Regions from separate parts of the Homo sapiens genome. Here region 2 is linked to region 1. Evidence: fine-mapped expression QTL. A gene starts in region 1. The other region holds a variant in brackets. All regions are shown on one strand. Distances are from middle to middle.

Region 1 (2,500 bases):
ACTGGGGCTGCTTCCCTTGAACAAAGTTATCAGCAGGTCTCAGGTGCCCTCTCCACACAATTCAGATCACACCCTTCACCCCTTCCGGCCCAAAGATGGACACCAGGTTCTGGAGTTACCAGCTATGGGATACTAAACCTTCACTCCCGATTTCCCTACCCACACCTTTATTGAGTTTCTCTCAGATCATCCTAATTTAAATGTGCCACCTATTTCCTGCTGAGATCCTGGATTATACAGTAGATATCACCACCTCATAAGGTTACAAGTGAGAGACCATGTTATGACTAGATGCTAGGCACTGAGCTATAGTTACTGTTACAACAATTATATTATGCAGAAATTGTTGCTCCCAATCTGCAGATAAGGAAGTCGAGAGGGTGAGAGAAATTAAGAAATTCTTACAAGCACATACAAGAGTTGAACAGCTAGAACTGAGGCCTTAACCTCCAGAACCAGAAACCTTTCCATTTCTATTATCACCATCGCGGTCAATATTTTTCTTACCACAAGTTTCATCATCGCCGTCATTCCTACATAACAAAATAACACTCTCTTGCGAATGAGTTTATTTCTACTGTTGGACGTGTGGTTAAGAGTGGGAGTTCTGGAATGGGATCAAAGTACAAGGCCTGACTTGCAGGAAGTGTTATCTTGAGCAAGAAACTTTCCTCCACGAGCCTCAGTTTCCTCCAGTAAAATGGGGATAGATAACAGGGCTTCCTTCACAGGGTCGTGGCGAGGATTCAATGAGATAACGTTTGCAAGGCAATGGGCAGGCAGTAAGCACTCAAATCCGACAGGAGCTACTGTCACGAAAAGCGGGTTTGCAGCCTTGGCGGCTTTATCGCCGCCGAGGACTAGGGAGGCGGGCCAGGACATGGGGACCCGAGGACCTGAAAGACTGGAAGATGCCCGCTGCCCACCCCCGGGCCCACCTGCTCCTCCAGTCTCTCAATCTCCAGCTGGTTTTTCTCCTCCTCTTCGTCATATTCCCACTCGTACTCCCCGGGGGAGCTCTCCGCGGAGGAAGCCATGGCGTACTCATCCCCATCGCTCTCGCTCACGCCTTCCTCCTGCTGATCCCACGCTGGCCCCATGGTCTTGTATGTCGCAGCGGCCACAGCCCGCGATAACACCTTCCTCCTTGTCCTAGCCGCCTTAACCTCATCCTCCTCTCCGTCAGCCTTGGGCCCAGCCTTGGACTCAGCCTCGGGTTCTGAAGCCGAGGTTTCGGCCGCAGTCGCCATCTTGCGCTTCTAATGACTCTCGGGTCTTCCCGCGGCCGCCGAAGACCCGCTGAGGCAGAAGCTGCCCGCGGCGCGCGCCTTATCAAAAACCCGTTTTCTTGCCATTGAAAGAGAAACTGGGAACTTAGATAACAGGAAAATCTCCACATACACTAAATTCACATTATTTTATACCCTGTAAAAGCTCCCACCAGATATAAAAACTCATTATAATGGCATGCGTTCCGTCACAACTTCGGACAGAAGTTGGGTCTTTGGGCAGGAAGTGGAAGCCATAGAGGAAGTCATGGAGCGAGAGTGATGTCTGTAGTGAAGAATTTGGCGCCATCTTGAGAAGGTCAAAGTGATTCTTCGATTAAATGCCTTACTTATCGCCTAGTGTGACCTGGCGCTTGGGTTTACTCTCCCCAGCAACTGCGCCTCAAACGCAAAGAAAACTGCAGGTCCTCGGGGAAGGATCGATTTCACCATTCAAGAGAAAAATCCATTTCCCAGATTCCTCCCCTTTATGTAAACGTCTGGTACCTAGTAGACGTTAAATACACGTGAGTTTTCCGGTTTTATAAGATCACATACTGCAAACCAACAGTAAATTACATTAATACGCATTTCTTTAGAAATTCTTAATTGCTAGGCACTGACATATAAATTGAGTTTGCTGTTGTTTTAGAGAGAAAAATAGACATATTCATTTTTTTTCAATCAGGACATGGTATTCGTTTCCTTCTTAAGCTTCCCATTTTTGAGGTAGGAAAGTATTGGTGTGTGTCTCTATCTCTACCTTGCTCCCTCATTAGCAGGCTTAATGGGCAGGAATTATGTCTGTTTTGCTTTCCGTTGGATCCCCGGGTCTAGTAGAGCGCCTTGACACATAGTAGGTACTCGACACAGATGCTGGCTTCATGATGAAGCAATTGTCCTCGAATTAATACAAAAGGGAAGATTCAGACTCAGCGAGCCGGTACCATTCGTCTAGGGACACACAGCCAGGAAGGAACCGAACCAGGATTCTAACCCAGGATTACCCAAGTTCGAATTCTAATTGAACATAAGTCCTTAGCGACCTTGGACGGACTTACTAAACTGCCCTGAATCTCGGCTTCCTTAGCTGCAAAATAGGGTTAGGAAAAGTGGACTCGGTGCTCCTCTGCGCCGCATTCCCGCAGCGGGATTTGTGAAAGCGAACTTGAGCCCCACACTGCAGAAGCCCTGAGGTCCTGTCTCAACCAGAATCCAGCACCCAGGACAAG
Region 2 (3,018 bases), 33 kb before region 1:
GAAAAGCACCCTAGTGACTGATACCCGTGCCCCAGGGAGCACATTTTGGAAAGCACTACAAAGGATCTGTGGTTTCTAAAACACTTTCAATATGGCCTTGTGTCCTTAAGAGAGCTTAACCACAATCTTCTACTGCAGTCTGTCCTCACCACTGCCTCCAGAGGGCCAGTACTGAAGCTCAACAGACATCAGCCTCCGGCAAACAGACCTCCCCATCAGTTCACCCGCTGCCTTTCCAATGCAACGTAAGCCCTGCACACTGCTACTGTATTCAAGAGTGTCCCTGGGCTGGGTCCAGCTGACTGGCCCACCTACCACTCCAGCCTCCTCGACCACTGCCCCACCCCTCTCTAATGCATCTGAGTTCAAACCCAATTATCTGCTGCTCACAGAAAATGCCAGGCTGTGCTGTGCCTTCAGGCTGTACTAACATTGGCTCCTCCCTGTGTAGCTCAGACCTTCCCTTCTCGCTGCCACAGTCACTCGGTCTTCCCCCTGGATGCCGCATCTCTTCCCCCACAGTCTTCCTGGTACGAAGTTGACCCACTAGTGCCTTCTTTGGCCTCCACCAGTATTAACAATGCCATCTCCCACAGTCCTGATCACACGCCATGCCCTGATCACACACCACTGCGGTCACACATCACATTTGCCTTATTCTGCCAAACTGGGAGGCCAGTGGAGCAATGAGCCATCCTCAGTCATTTAGGAAAGCCCAAACAAGGTGTGCAAGCAAGGTCAACTCAACGATGGATGACTCCATTCCCAGTTCTCTCTGGCTCACACATCTGTATTAAGAAAGTATACAGAGTCCTTTCAAGTCCAGAGACAATTCTTTTTTTTGTTTTGTTTTGTTTTTGAGACAGTGTCTTGCTCTCTCTCCCAGGCTGGAGTGCAACGGCATGATCTCTACTCATTGCAACCTCTGCCTCCCGGGCTCAAGTAATTCTCCTGTCTCAGCCTCCCGAGTAGCTGGGAAAACAGGCACCCGCCACCACAGCCAACTAATTTTTGTATTTTTAGTAGAGGCAGGTTTTCACCATGTTGGCCAGGTTGATCTTGACCCCTGACCTCAGGTGATCCGCCCACCTCAGCCTCCCAGAGTGCTGGGATTACAGGCATGAGCTACCGCGCCCAGCCACCAGAGACAATTCTTTACCTTGACTGACTCTCTGAAATAAATATGACCCAGAGCTGCCCGTCCCTGAAATTACAAGGGTGAAAGAAACACTGCTGGAAAATTCCACTAAGTCAGAACCATTAAAAGCAGGGCCAAGGCCAGGTGCAGTGTCTCATGCCTGTAATAACAGCACTTTGGGAGGCCAAGGCGGGAGGATCACTTGAGGTCAGGAGTTCAAGACCAGCCTGGCTAACATGGTGAAACCCCGTCTCTACTAAAATACAAAAATTAGCTGGGCATGGTGGCTGGCAAAGTGTAATCCCAGCTACTTGGAAGGCTGAAGGAAGAGAATCACTTGAACCCAGGAGGCGGAGGTTGCAGTGAGCCGAGATCACGCAACTGCACTCCAGCCTGGGCGACAGAGCGAGACTCCCTCTCAAAAAAAAAAAAAAAAAAAAGTAGG[G/T]CCAAGCCTGGCAGGTCTGTGCAGGGTTGGGGCTGCAGCAGTGGTGCGGGATGCTAGAGCCTGAATGGAAGGAAGAAGACAGGCAGGCATGGGGCAGTGACAGGGACCCAGCAGCCTAGATCTGGAAGCCTGAGTGAAAGAAGCAAGGGTGTCCATGCAGGGCCGTGCCTGGCCCCGGGTGTGGGAGACCAAACAGGGTGGGGATGGCACATATGAGAAGGGGAGGCAGGCACAGGAAGTTGATTACATACCTACAGGGGCCGGGTGGAGTAACTGAGGATGCTGAGAATAGAGGGAGCCAAGTTTCTCAAGGTCAGAGAAGGGCGTGACACAGCTGGGCACAGTGGCTCACACCTGTAATCCCAGCACTTTGGGAGGCCGAGGCAGACAGATCACTTGAGGCCACAAGTTCAAGACCAGCCTGGCCAACATGGCGAAACCTGATCTCTACTAAAAATACAAAAAATTAGCCAGGTATGATGGTGCATGCCTGTAATCCCAGCTACTTGAGAGGCTGAGGCACAAGAATCACTTGAACCCGGGAAGCGGAGGTTGAAGTGAGCCAAGATCACCCCACTGCACTCCAGCCTGGGCAACAAAGCGAGACTCTGTCTCAAAAATAAATGAATAAATAAATTTTAAAAAGAGAGAGAAGGGCATTGCAAGTGTGAAGGGGAACCCTGTGGTGTTAGACCGGAACTGGAGGTATTGGTGTGAAATCATGACTTTCAGTATATACAAATAGTTACACAAGTAAATATGGTCATAAATATGTGTACACATGCACACGCACACGCACACACACACACACTCCCTACCCTCGACCACTCAGGCCTCAGAACAATAACCAACAGCAGTGAGCACAACTAGCACCTTCTAAATACCACTCATCACTCAAAGGAACCTTGGAGAAATGATGGATTCCAGGGCTGAGTTATGGAAAGTATAAGATGACCCTTGGGTATTGTGTGCTAGAAGGTAAGGAAATGATCAAAGAACAAGGGGACAGGTCAAAGGGACATAGAAGCCTGTGTGAAGGAACTCTTGCTAGCCAAACCTGGGATAAGTAGAGAATCAGCATAAATAATTCTCAAAAGGGTCATCACCAGTGATGGAACAAAGCGAATCACAGTCCACCTGATGGGACTCAATGGGCAGGCCACAGGAGCACTTGTGCACTATTCCTGCCCGAGATGCATGAGTGGAATCCAATGCTTAGGGAGCATCAGACACACCCAGGCTGAGGGGCACAACACAGCAACTGGCCTGCCCCCTTACAAGACTGCAGGTCATCAGAGTAAAAAAAAAAAGCTGAGGAGTGCTCCAGACTCAAGGAGATCCAGGAGACAGGACAACTAAACACAATAGTGCATCCTGAACCGGATCCTTTCACTACAAAGGACATTATCAGGATAAATGGGAACCCATAGCTCAT

Evidence for each region.
Region 2: its variant is fine-mapped to the expression of SART3 in whole blood (INTERVAL, PIP above 0.99).

Annotation. Positions count from the first base shown.
Region 1 is chr12:108,559,905-108,562,404 of GRCh38, forward strand. SART3 (spliceosome associated factor 3, U4/U6 recycling protein) reads right to left here and starts at 1,269. Exons shown (of 19, transcript NM_014706.4): 1 at 939-1,269. The coding sequence starts at 1,250. It also overlaps a transcript of ISCU not described here. RefSeq lists enhancers at 1,348-1,407, 1,418-1,517, 2,372-2,431.
Region 2 is chr12:108,526,925-108,529,942 of GRCh38, forward strand. All of the region lies in intron 15 of SART3 (spliceosome associated factor 3, U4/U6 recycling protein), which reads right to left. Among named protein-coding and RNA genes, the nearest start is that of FICD, 13 kb to the left of the region's middle. The variant G/T (reference allele first, on the strand shown) is at 1,584.